2 linked regions of the Homo sapiens genome follow. The protein of the gene in region 1 purifies or fractionates together with the protein of each later gene. This does not show direct contact. Each region holds a gene or a part of one and is shown on either strand. Other genes may lie near its edges.

What was found. The genes of interacting proteins can lie anywhere in the genome.
Region 2: the proteins of ALDH3A1 (region 1) and CASP14 purify together in Homo sapiens (affinity purification with mass spectrometry; 2 studies listed by BioGRID and IntAct, with this or other methods). This does not show direct contact.

The regions. Positions count from the first base shown.
Region 1 is NC_000017.11:19,745,293-19,752,353, reverse strand, and holds the start of ALDH3A1 (aldehyde dehydrogenase, dimeric NADP-preferring), read left to right. Parts: upstream 1-4,055; 5' UTR 4,056-4,095; intron 4,096-6,741; exon of another isoform or gene 6,742-7,061. UniProt on the Homo sapiens protein: ALDHs play a major role in the detoxification of alcohol-derived acetaldehyde. They are involved in the metabolism of corticosteroids, biogenic amines, neurotransmitters, and lipid peroxidation.
Region 2 is NC_000019.10:15,045,660-15,052,498, forward strand, and holds the start of CASP14 (caspase-14 precursor), read left to right. Parts: upstream 1-3,820; 5' UTR 3,821-3,986; intron 3,987-6,546; 5' UTR 6,547-6,592; coding exon 6,593-6,619; intron 6,620-6,839. UniProt on the Homo sapiens protein: Non-apoptotic caspase involved in epidermal differentiation. Is the predominant caspase in epidermal stratum corneum. Seems to play a role in keratinocyte differentiation and is required for cornification.

The DNA.
Region 1 (7,061 bases):
CCTCCCCACCCTTCCCAGCCCTGGTAACCACCGATCTATTCTCTATCTTCATGAGATCCACTTGTTTGGCTCCCACACATGAGGGAGAACATGTGGCATTTGTCTTCCTGAGTCATAACACTTTTAACCAACGGGGAGGTCCCTGAGACCCACTGCCTAATTTTCTCCTTTCTACTCTCTCTTTTTTTTTTGAGACAGGGTCTACCTGGTCACTCTGTCCCCCAGGCTGGAGTGCACTGGCATGATTACAGCTCACTGAAGCCTCGACCTCCTGGGCTCAAGTGATCCTCCCGCTCAGCCTCTCAAGTAGCTGGGTGCATGCCACCACGCCCAGCTAATTTTTTTTTTTTTTTTTTTTTGAGATGGAGTCTCGCTCTGCCCTCATCCAAGTTGGAGTGCAGTGGCGCAATCTTGGCTCACTGCAACCTCCACCTCCCAGGTTCAAGCGATTCTCCTGCCTCAGCCTCCCGAGTAGCTGGGATTACAGGCATGCACCACCACGGCCAGCTAATTTTTGTATTTTAGTAGAGATGGGGTTTTACCATGTTGGCCAGGCTGGTCTTGAACTCCTGAGCTCAAGTGATCTGCCCGCCTCAACCTCCCAAAGTGCTGGGATTACAGGCGTGAGCCACCGCACCCAGCCTCCTTCCTTTTTTTTATTTTTTGTAGAGATGAGTCTCTCTATGTTGCCCAGGCTCCTTCTACTCGTATAAAGAAAGTGGTTTCCCCTCCCAACAACTATATCTAATCTAAATGTTCCTTGAAATTTAAGCAAACTCGCTATTCATTCATTCATTCATTCATTCAACACTTTTTTTGCTAGCTTTGGGTGAATTTGCTGAAAATCGTCTTGCTAAATGATTGCTTTTCCATCAGAGGGATGGTTAGGTGTAGTGGGCTGCTTCCGTATCTTCAGAGGTCTCCCTTGTGCCAGGATATGGTGCTGAACAAAAGTTGAGATCTCTGCCTTTGTGGACATTCCAGTCCAAGGGGGAATAAGGAGAGACATAGTCACACAAACAAAGATATGAACGCAGGTTGTGACAGGTTCCTGGAAGTAAGGAAGGTTTTATTTGAGAGGTGAGAGAGGTCAGGGAAGCTGAGATCTGAACATGGATAAGAGTTAGTCTGGTGCAGAGTGGAAGAAAAAGTGTCCCAGGGAGCAAGAACAGCATGTGCAAAGGCCTTGTGGTAGGAAATTGCCTGGTTAAGTCAAGGAATGCCAGCAGACTGGAGTGCAGTGAGAATGGTGGGAAGTGGTGCGAAGTGAGGCTGGCAAGGCAGCCAGGAGCCAGGCCAGGCAGGGGCTCACAGGCCATGGGAGGAAGCTTCCTGACAGCAAGGGGGTGCCACCCAAGGATGTGAATCAGGGGAGAGACATGCTCAGGTCCTTATCGTCCGCATGTCTCTCTGGCAGCCACTTGGAGAAGGCAGCTGAGCCTGACTCAAGGAGAGTAGGTAGAGGGCAAGAACAGTGGCCTGGGAGAGAGAGAGTGAGTGACAGCCCAGGTGAGGATGAGGCATTGGGGATGGAGTATTAGGACTTGCAAAGATTAACTCATGCTTGCAATCCCAGCACTTTGGGAGGCTGAGGCGGGAAGATGAATTGAGCCCAGGAGTTTGAGACCAGCCTGGGCAACATAATGAGACCCATCTCTACAAAACATTTAAAAATTAGCCAGGCATGGTGGTGGGTTCCTGTAGTCACAAGGTGGGAGGATCGCTTGAGCACCGGAATTCAAAGCTGCAGTGAGCCGTGATGGCACCACTGCACTCCAGCCTGGGCAACAGAGCAACACCCTGTCTCAAAAAAAAAAAAAAAAAAAGAAAAAAGAAAATCTGAAAAGCAAGTATCTGCAAGTTTCTAGCACAACCCACACTCCCACACTTTTGCCACTACTGAAACTATAACCAAAACCCAAACACGCAAACAAGGATTTTGTTCTTCGTAGATTTGAACTGCTTTTAGGCTCCTTGCTCTGACGCTTCCACCACTACTGCTGCCACTTTTGATGACACCCACACCACCTAACCTTTCCAGGATGCCCTCGGCCCGCCAGGCACTGTTCTGGTCACTTCGTGTACTCAATGCTGTGTTGCTGGCTTTTGCTAGTTGCTTCCATGGTTCTCCCAGGGGAGGGCCGCTGCCACAAGAAGTCAGCTCCGAATGGCCTTCGGCCTTGCATTCTGCCCTCTACTCAAGATCCAAATTCCCAGGAGAGTCAGGGAGGCCTCATGGGGAGCCCACCCCAACCCATGGCTGGCCTGGAGAAGGCACCTGGTTGATCATCTCACCAAGTAGGAAGGGGTTGCCTGCAAAGATAATCAGCTGCTGCCACCAGAAAAGGGGAGAGGCTGGCACAGGCTCGGTCTTCTCCCCTCTCAGGAGGCACCCCACTTTGCACCTACCACCCAGTCCAGCCCCTGCACAGGTGCGAGGTCCTGCAGATGCTTCTTTCTGCTGTTTCTGGAATGTTTCCCATTCTGTTAGTCTTATTTGGGGGTCTCGTCATTTCTTGCCTGCATTGCTGGAAGCTGCAGCCTTTGGGCTAGACCTTTCTCACACTGTGCCCTGTCCAGGGGGTTCTCTAAAACAAAAAATAGCAGACATTTGTCTGTCTGATAATCTCCTCAGCGCCCTGCACCCCCACAGCCAGCCTGGCCCACAGGCCTCCGTGAGCCCCCGCCCCAGGAGAGTCATTCACCTCCACACCTCCTGCTGGCAACAGTGGACACATCGCACTTTTTCGTGACATAACGTTCCCAGCCTCTGTGCCTTTGCTTCTGCTCTTCCAGCCCCCTTGCTGTTCCTTGCCCAAATGCTTCTCACTCAGCTCAGATGATGTTCCCTCCCACGGACTCTCACCCCAGCCCCTCTAGCATCCTCTGCCTACCTGGTTACTACAGTGTTCACATTATTTTGAAATTTCCTGTTTATTTTGTCAGTCAATAAATATTTATTGAGCATCTACTATAAATGCTGTATGGAGGTTACAGCAGTGAACAAATCAAATTCTAGCTGTCAGGAGTTAAGGGACAGGTAGCAAACAAGATATAAACGCTCCAGAGAAAAAATAATGGAGGAAGACGACAGCATTGTGCTATTTTCCACAGCACATTGGAGCGTAGCCGTGTGGGTGGATGTAGGGGAAGGGGGCTCCAGGTGGAGAGAAGCAGGAGGGCCAGAGCACATCCTCAGGACTCGTAGGCCAGGACCGGAACCTTGTGTTTTCCTCGAATGAAATGGGAAGCAGGGACCCCATGCTGGTAAGCAGTCTGCCTGCAGGCGGGTGAGGGTGGCGGGAAGCGCCTGGTGAGAGGGGCCGAGAGTCTGTTCCACACCTGCCTCCTCCCCACAGCGTGGTGCAGAGCAGGAGCCCAGCGAACATTGATCAGACAGCGTGGGAACGGCTTTTCCAGACTCCTTCCTTCCCAAGCATCTCTGGTTTTCGGTGACCACACAGACCCTTGGCCCTCTTCTCAGCTATTCAACGAGAGAGCAGATTTATGGATTGGAGACCCCCATCAAAAGTCCCCAGCCTGTGGCTCCCCAGGGTTAGGATCTCTGACTCAATGGGGCCCTGTGCACACTGGGGGATGTGAAGGGCCCGGGGCAGCGGTGGCTGGGGGTGCGTTTCGGGGGAGCTGCATGCTCTCACTGTGGTTCGTGGCTGAGCCCTGCCGATCTTATGTAACCAGAGAACTCAGAGAACCGCATCTGGCAGCGGCAAGTCTGGAAAGCTGGAAGAGCTCCATGCCAGGCTGAATCAATCAGCAGCCCCCACGCCCAGGGCAAACATAGGCTCTTTTGAAGATTGGAGATGTGCCCTGCCCAAGCCTTCAGAAACATTCTCGCATTTCAGAAGTGAACAAAAGCAAACAGCCCGGGACCTAATCCCCAAAACCTGGGCTGTAGGGAGCAGAGGTCCAGAGGACGCCACACCCCACATTTGAATATTTTTTTTTCTTGTCACGCAAACTTCCTGGGCAGGAACTCCAAGGGCTCAATGGACGGGAAGCAGGGTCCTTAAATACGTCCCCTCTTGGCTCTTGCCGTTCCAGGAGCCCCAGTTACCGGGAGAGGCTGTGTCAAAGGTAATCCTCTTCCCTGCATTCCTTATTTTTTCTCTTGTCTAGGTGGAGTCTGCACTCAGAGCCGGGGCCCTAAGTGTCAAGAGTCCTACATCATCTCTCCAGGGGGTCCCTGCCTCTGGGACCATCATCTCTGGAGCATCCTCCTGGACCTCTGGCAGCTCTGCCATCCCCCAAACCAGGAGGCAGAGGTCCCAGGGATCCGCGGAGCAGGGACACCAAGGTGGCCGTGGAGTGAGAGGCCCTGATGGGCCGTCAGACTCCATGACTGGAAGGAAGGCAGCAGAGCCGAGTGCTAAAGGCATGAGCTGCTGACAGAGATGCATGTGGGTTCAAACCCTGACATGCCACCTGCTAACTGTGAGATCAGATACAGCATTAAACGTTTCTCAGTCTCCCTTTCCTCATCTGTAAAATGCACTCATAACCGTTTCTTCTTCATGGGCATCACTACAGAGCTTTTGTGAGGATGGAAGGCAATGAGGAGGGGAGGAGGTGTCACTGGGGGGCAAAGTCAACACTGGCACAGGTGAGAGGAGCGGGGTGCAGGAATGTGGGGTGTGAGGCGACGGGCTCTGGGGAGGCCCCCAGTGCATGCTGCAGCAGCTCCCATTTGGGTGCAGCTGCGACGTGATGGTGTCCACTCATCTCTGTGAAGTGGCACCTTTGTTAACCTGTCTCTCGGGGAAGTCCTGGGAAGGCCGTCCAGCCCAGAGACCACAGTTCCAAGTGGCGATGCTGGGGTGCAAGGCCAATCCCGTCCCACGCTCACCAGGCTCTTCCCACCTGGGCTGCCTGCCTTGGTTTGACCGTACAAGGCTCGGGAGAGAAGCGGGACCTTCTCTCCTGGGTTGTGGTCAGCAGGAGGGGCCTGGCCCATGGGACTGAGGAGGTCCCAGTGAGGGGGCTTTCCCAGCCTCCTATCAGAACATAGGGAGGGACCATGGAAGGGCCAGGCTTAGAGCACCCTCAATGCCAGCAGGTCCCTCCTCCCTGTGCAGAAAGCCTGGGATTAGGGGTCAGCCTATGGGGAGGGGAGGCAGAGGAAGGATTGGAAGCCACTCGCTGGAATGTAGGCAGGACCATATATCTATATACAATATAATTATATATTACATATGATATATAGGGTTTTTTAAAAAAATGGAAATACCCTATTTCTGCTGATGTTAAAAGTTATGCCGGGTCTGCAAGTGGGCTGAGTATCTCAGGAAGGGGAGTAAGGAACTGGTAACAGTGGCCCCTCTGTGGGGCAGCACCTGACAGCTGATGGAGCAGGGAGGAGGGAGGCAGACTTTTTTCTGTGCCCCTTTGCTATATTTTACATTTTGTTTCATGAGCATGTAGTGCCTATCTTAAAACGCACCAAAATTTAAAAAATACAAGCTCATTGCAAAAAGTCAAACATTGCATAAGAGGAAAACAGATCATCAATAATTCCACCCCCATCAGTTGTCTCATCGTGTCGGGGGCTACCGTTCTAGTCCTTTCTTGCATGTTAGAGCGTGCACGCCCACACACACACGCACACGCGCGCACACACACGCACATGCACACACACGCACGCACACACACACGCACATGCACACACACGCACACACACACATGCACACACACGCACACGCACACACACACACGCACACACACACATGCACACGCCTGGTACATCTGTTGTTCTGTAACTTGTTTTCTGTTTTTCTTTCTTTCTTTCTTTCTTTTTCTTTTTTTAGATGGAGTCTCGCTGAAAGTAATTATATTACTTACCCGAGGCCTTCAAATACCGCTTCCACTGACAGCCTCTTGACTTCTAGCAAATCTCACTAACCTTGCCTTACCTCCTACCACTAATCTAATAGGAGAACTCTGTGATTATGGCTCCATTCTCCCGGTCAAAGTGCTGGAGTGCAATGGCCCAATCTCGGCCCACTGCAACCTCCTCCTCTCAGCTTGGTTCAAGCAATTCTCCTGCCTCAGCCTCCCAAGTAGCTGGGACTACAGGTGCCTGCCACCACTCCCAGATAATTTTTGTATTTTTAGTAGAGACAGGGTTTCACCATGTTGGCCAGGCTGGTTTTGAACTTCTGACCTCAGGTGACCCGCCCACCTCAGCCTCCCAAAGTGTTTGCTAGGATTATAGGCGTGAGCCACCGCGCCCGGCCTGTAACCTGTTTTCTTTCTTATCCCCAGTGCCTGAGACACCCCTGGTGCAGAGAGAGCCCCTACAAACATGCTGAATAGCCTGCTCCACCTAATCCCTAAATACTGCACAGTAAACCCTTACGTGGGTGTGACAGGAGTCATTTAAACTGTCTCCTTTCTTTCGGATCTTTGGGATGTTTACAATACTTCCCTGTTATAGAAAACAGTGATGACTTTCTTATTCGTGAATGTTTAGGAAAGGCTGTAGGACCTTTTCGTCACAGAGAAGTATGTTTGAAAAACTTTTGCCACATATTGCCAAATTGCCCCCAGCAGGGCCATCCCGATTTGCCACTATACTTTCGTGTATTGGTAGCAGGAATCGCCTCCACACCTCTTTGTGGAAATCTGCAGCTCTCTGAATCCTTGGCGGGCATGGGCGTGCGTCTCCCAGGTGTGGCACGCGTGGTTTACACACCAAGCCTGGTTCAGCTCTGCCAAGAAACCAGCGCTTTTTAGAACAATGGCTTAGCCAGGAGGGTGGTGCTGGGTTTTTCTTTATCGGCTTGGGTGTGGAATCGCGGACTGCGCCCCTCCAATCTGATCTGGAGAGTGGCTGACTGCGTGTGCAGAGCTCTGGGGGTGTTGGTCTGGGATTGTGCCATCAGCTTTGCAAGCAAGTAAGGGAGCGGAAAAGGCCGGGAAAGGCCCTGCCGCGAGCACGCTGCCAAGAGCCCCCAGCAGCAGTTCGGCTTAGGACTCGGGTTGCGGCGGGTGTCACCTTCTCAGGGGCTAGCAAGGCAGCCAGGGCCCAGGCGTCTGAGTGAGGG
Region 2 (6,839 bases), on another chromosome or scaffold:
GCGAAGTGTTAGACATCTTCCAACACATCATTGCAAACACTCCGAGTCCTGACTGATTCCCCTAAGATCCAACTTTCTTAACGGACCAGACCCTGTCAAACAATGAGATTTCAAGGAGGAAGAAGACAGCAAAAGCATGCTTTAGCTAAAATTTTGGCATGGGGTAAGTGTAGGATGTTATGTCCAGTTTAATTTGGTGTTTTCCTGGGTTTTGTTTCTCTTTTAGTGAAAAGTGTGTACTTTTTATGCCATTGCAGAATTGATTCAATAGCACCACTGAATTGTCGGTCACGTGGATATGTTCAGTTTGAAAAAAATTATCAAGCTGCACATTTAAGAGTTGTGCACTAGGCCGGGTGCGGTGGCTCATGCCTGTAATCCCAGCACTTTGGGAGGCCAAGAGGGACAGATCACGAGGTCAGGAGTTCGAGACAGGCCTGACCAACATGGTGAAACCCCATCTCCACTAAAAATACAAAAATTGGCCAGGTGTGGTAGTGAGTGCCTGTAATCCCAGCAACTCGCGAGGCTGAGGCAGGAGAATGGCATGAACCCGGAAGGCAGAGGTTGCAGTGAGCCAAGATCACGCCACTGCACTCCAGCCTGGGTGACAGAGCGAGACTCCGTCTCAAAAAAAAAAAAAGAAAGAAAAAAAAAGAGTCGCGCACTTTTCTTCACATAGGTTATTCTCAATAGTTGTTTAAAGAACACAAAAAAATTGAGTTTGTTCCATATGTGCTAACATGGAAAGATGACCCAGACATAATTCGGTGAACAAGGCAAGTAACAGGACAATTTTGTAGAACGGGCCCACCTATGTAACTAACACTGCGAATGTGTGTAAGTCAATGCGGCAATAGGCACTGAAGGGAAATTGCTCAGTCTTGTGCCTGGGCTACCTGGAAGCAAAGGGAAGAATTGGAAGGATGAGAACAGGCCAGTTTTGCTAAAAAAAACATTTCTGTATTGCTAGAAAGTTGCACTACTAGGAATGGAATTAAAACATGCATCAGGCTAAGCGTGGTGGCTCACGCCTGTAATCCCAGCACTTTGGGAGGCCCAGGCAGGTGGATCGTTTTCAGCTCAGGAGTTTAACAACAGCTGGGCAACATGGCAAAACCCAGTTTCTACAAAAAACACACAAAAAATTAGCCTGGCATGGTGGTGCACGCCTGTAGTCCCAGCTACTGGGGAGGCTGCGGCTGGAGAATTGCTTGAGTCCGGGAAGCAGAGGTTGTAGTGAGTTGAGATCATACCATTGCACTCCAGCCTGGGCAACTTAGTGAGACCCTGTCTCAAAAAAAAATCCACATAAAACTTGTACATAAATATGTATAACAGCATCCTTCAAATAGCCAAAAGCCTAACACAACTGAAATGTTCCTCCACAGATGAATAAATAAACAAAATGAGGTATATCTGTACAATGGACTATTATTCAGTCAGAAAAAGGGATGAAGTTCTAATATATGCTACCATGTGGATGCTATCTTCCTCCTCCTTGAAATCTCATTGATTTATAGGATCTGGTCAGCTAAGAAGGCTGGATCTTAGGGGAAGGAATTGGAATGGGAGTGTCTGCAATGGTTTGCTGAAAGACATCTAACACTTGGCTCTCTAAAAACCAAAACAAAATGAAACAGGAGACAACAAACCAACATCCCTGCAATACTGTTCTTGAAAACATCATGCTGAATGAAAGAAGCCAGACACAAAAATCACATAGTGTATGATTCTATTTCTGTGAAATATCCAGAACAGGGAAACCTGCAGAGACAGAAACTCGGCTAGTGGTTGCCTAAGGCTGGGATGTATGGAGAGATTGGGAGTGATAGCTAAAGGGTACTGGGATTCTTTTGGGGGGTGATAAAAATGTTCTAAAATGAGCCAGGTGTGGTGGCCCGCGCCTGTAATCTCACACTTTGGGAGGCCGAGTGGGGAGGATCCCTTGAGGCCAGAAGTTCGAGACCAGCCTGGGCAACACAGCAAGACTTTGTCTCTACAAAAAATCTTGAGGAAAAAAGTAGCAAGGCATGTACGTGCACACCTGTAGTCCCAGCTGCCCAGGAGGCTGAGGTGGAAGGATCGAATAAGCCCAGGAGTTTTAAGCTGCAGTGAGCTGTGATCGCTCCACTGCACTCCAGCCTGGGTGACAGATCTTATCTCCGAAAAAAGAAAAAACAAAATGTTCCAAAATGAACTGACGCAATGGTTGCATCACTGTGAATATATTGAAACCCACTGGATTGCACACTTCAGGTGGGTGAATTGTATAATACGTAAATTATATCTCATTTAAGCTGTTGCTATCGAACCGAGTTTGTTCTTCCTCTGTGCAGCAAGCCAATCAATGTAATGACAGATTTTGCAGAAGAGGAAGAGTTCGTTCATGAGGCAATTAAGCGACGAGGTGGTAAAACAGGTCTCAAATTCTCCTCCCCAAAAATAGGGTTTGAGGGTGCTTATGGGATAGAAAACGGGGTGATCTAAAGTACGGAGAAAGGTGACTGGCAGGTAGGGAAGGTGAGGTAATCAGAATTTCTGAGCAAGCATGGTTGAGCTACATGGCTTTAGATAGGACATTTGTGCAAAAAATAGCATTTAGCATGATCTGAAGGTGGAGTTTACGGCCCTCTGATATCAGCTACCCACATAGGTGCAGTTGAAGGGTCAGTGATCTCCACTGGCTTAAACTAAACAAGAGCTGCCTCCTACCTAGTTCCTGAAAAACAACTTTAAGCACCCATTACTATAGTGTCCCACAGACAAAAATGTTATCTGTAAGGAAGCCAGTGGGAGTTTAGTTATGCATTATTTGGCTACGTGACTTGCTAGTGGCGCTTTTAAGATCAACTATAAGTAAGCAATTAAAAGTAAGTAAGCAATTAAACGCAAGGCAGATTAAGTCTGGAGGGCTTAATCAGGTTCGCCTTTGGTTTCACTATTAACATAAGAAATAAAATGAAACAAAATGGCTGAAAAATAATAAGAGGAGGAGGAAGAGAGGAATCATCATGATGCATCAGTTAAGGCAACTGGGCTGGAACATTTTAGGGGTTGTTTGTTTGTTTTTATATTTAAGACAGAGTCTTGCTCTGTCACCCAGGCTGGAGTGCAGAGGCACAATCTTAGCTCGCTGCAGCCTCAAACTCCTAGGCTCAAGCCAGCCTCCTACCTCAGCCTCCTGAGTAGCTAGGACTATAGGTATATGCCATCATTTTTATTATTATTATTATTTTAGTGACAGGGTCTCACTATGCCCCGGCTGGTCTCAAACTCCTCACCTCAAGCGATCCTCCTGCCTTGGCCTCCCAAAGCGCTGGGACTACAGACGTGACCCACCACACCTCACCCCTTATAGGGTTGAATGCCAACTGTGCCAATTGCTGACCTTGGGCAGTCATTTCACCTCTATGAGCCTCAGTTTCTCCATCTGCAAAATGGGAGCAAAAATACTGATCTGTCTAGACTCTTGAAGACTCGATGAGATAATAACTAAGTGAAGTCGGTGTTATCTACACAGTGGAAGGTGAGATGAATAAACTAGGCATAATGATGATGGTAATAACCAGATGGGCTGGCTATGGGATGGGGGTTGGGAGAGGTTGTGGCTGGGCTGGCACAGACATCTGACTCATTTAGACTCTCTGCCTAGGCCACCTTTGCCAGAGGGAGTCCCCTCAGCCTTGCGATCACTCATCCCATTGGCGTTGGCTCCATTTCCACACCACAGCTGTGTGCCAAGGGTGTGTCATGAGGTTTCTTGAGTGACAGAAAACTCACCGACAATAAAGGGCCAGGTGATTGTGCCACCCGATTCATAGACCAGGCTTCTCAGGAGAAACCCCGGGAGATTCCACACTGTCAGCCCCTTCTCCAAGATCAGTACGTGGGCCTGACTCCTCCTCGGTGCCCAGCTCAGTATTGGCAACTAGGAGAGTAGTGAGATTGAACTTGGCCTTGAGGAACAGCTGCCTCTAGAGTTGGTAAGTGATTTGGTGGATATTAGCCTCTCTCTCTCTCTCTCTCTCTCTCTCTCACACACACACACACACACACACACACACACACACGCACATACACACATACGCTCCCTCTCCCTTCATGAATTAATGCTCTGGCCAGTTTTGGCAGAATGGAAGAAATTTCCATCCATCCCCTCTTTCTTTTCATCTGTTCATTTTTTTCTTATTTGTTTACTCAGCAAATTCTCTCCAACACCACCTCTGTGCTCCCTGCCACACTGTTGGCCATGATGGAGACAGAGATAATGAAGTCAGGCTTTCAGTCCTGAAAACTGAGCTGCCAGTTCAGCCATGAGAGTAAGAATCAAAAACACTGCTGTAATTCAAGTAGGAGCAAGCAGAGCTGTGAGAGTCCAGAGAAGGAAGAGGAAAGTTCCAGGAGGTCAAGAGGGATCCTAAAACCTACCTGGGTCACCATTGCTGTTAAGCACCTAGAGCTCTCCCCAGGTCCTTTGCGGATGGGAAAATCGAGTCTCAGAGAGGAGAGTGAGATGCCGAAGGTCACACAGCTGGGAAGGGACTGAGGCAGGATTCGGTTCTGGCTCCAGGGCTATGCTCCTTCCACTTCCTCCCTCACAATCTTTGGCTCCTCTTTCGTCACAGCACTTGCTGTGTGTGTGTGTGAGTGTGTGTGTGTGAGAGAGAGAGAGAGAGAGAGAGATTTAATATTCATTTCTGTCACAGACTAGAGCTACAGAAGGACAGAAAGTCAGGGAGCATGTCTGTCTTACTTAATGGATTCTAAGTGCATAACACATAATAGATACCCAGAAAATATTTGCTGGGTAGGTGGGTGGGTGGGTGGATGGATTGATGGATGGATGGATGGATGGGTGGGTGGGTAGATGGATAAGTAAATAGGTGGATGGATAGATGGAAGATAGAGATGATGGATGAAGGAATGGATAGAAGGAGGGCTAGATGGAGGGATAGTTGGAAGATAGAATAGATGGAGGGATGGAAGACAGAGAGAGATAATGGATGAATGGATGGATGGATGGATGAATGAATGAGTGGTTGGATGAATAAGTGGATGGATAGATAGATGGATGGGTAGATAAATGGGTTGATGGAAGAATGAATGGGTATATGGGATGACTGATTAATAGATGGGTAGACAGACGGATGAATAGATGTGTGAGTGGGTGGATGGATGGATGGATGAGTGGATAGATAGGTAAGTGGAAAGATAAATTGGTGGATGGGTTGATGAATAAAAGGATGGATGTTAAATTGGATTGATGGATGACTAGATAGATGTGCGGGTGGAAGGATGGGTGGATGGGATGACTGATTAATAGATAAGTAGATGGACAGATGAATAGATGGAAGGGTGAGTGGGTGAATGGATGGATAGATGATGAATTAATGGATAGATGGTAGATGGATAGATGAATGAATTGATGGGTGACTGGATAGATAGATGGATAAAAACATAGATGAATGGATGGTTGATGGGGGAAGGCATAGCAGATATTATGCCACCAAAATTGTCAGAGAAGGATCTAGATAGAAAAAAAAAAAGCATTCCCGGTGGGGTGCAGTGGCTCACATCTATAATCCCAGCACTTTGGGAGGCTGAGGTGGGCAGATCATGAGGTCAGGAGATCAAGACCATCCTGGCTAACACAGTGAAATCCCGTCTCTACTAAAAATACAATAAAATTAGCCAGGCATGGTGGCGCATACCTGTAGTCCCAGCTACTCGGGAGGCTGAGGCAGGATCATCACTTGAACCCAGGAGGCAGAGGTTGCAGTGAGCCGAGATCATGCCACTGCACCCCAGACAGCCTGGGTGACAGAGTGAGATTCTGTCTCAAAAAAAAAAAAAAAAAAAGCAAAAAGCATTCCCTACTGAGGAGAAAGTGTAGGAAAAGGCAAAGAGATGGGGAAATGCCAAGAGTATGACAAAAGTCTGTCTGTGCAGCCAGAGAAGAGAACAGGACTCAGAGATGAGAATGGAGAATGTGGACAGACATTCAGACTCAAGGAAGAGCAAGGGAGGTGGATTGACCCCTTCGTATTGGAGACCCAGTGAGATAATATCAAAGTTGCATTCCCCACTTCGATGACATTCTCCTTTTAAACACTCCTCCAAGGCATCTCTTTGAGATGGCTTCCCCAGCCCGTCATCTCCTAGGTAGAAGAGGCAAACACATGGGTCACTTGCCCTGCTCCTCATTCCAGGGCTTTCAGGGGAAGTTCAGTCCACCAGAAGCTGGTGAATGACCCACGGGAGACACAGGAAGTTTTTGGGGGCGGAGTGGGGGACATTGTGGGGTAGGCTCAGCAGTTCTGAAGAAGACATCCAGAAATGGAAGACATCGTGAAATTGTCATTCTAGGGGTGATATATTACTACTTCATGGATTATCATCTATTGCCCAGATCTGTCCACAGACCAAATCCCCACCACTTGAGTGCTATTTGGTCTCAAAAATCCAGATACATAAGCCAGTTTGTCCCCTGAGCCCCTCGGCCTCCCTTTAGAGAACTTTAACCTATCTTCTCTTGACTCCAAGGATCAGACAAGGGTGCTGAGAGCCGGGACTCACAACCAAAGGAGAAATGAGCAATCCGCGGTCTTTGGAAGAGGTAGGCTGGGTGCAGGTTGAGGGGAGGGTGATCATCTGGGGAGAAGGAAGGTGAGGATTTTAATGTTTTGGAAAGAGTGGAGGGACTGAAAAAATCATGATCTGAACTCAGAGCTAGGAGGTACTTTGTAGTCAATCAAACAGCAAAAAAAGACTCAGAGATGGAACCGAAGTTGGGTTGGGTGGTGGGGGCAGTCAAACACAGCTACCTCTGTCTCCAA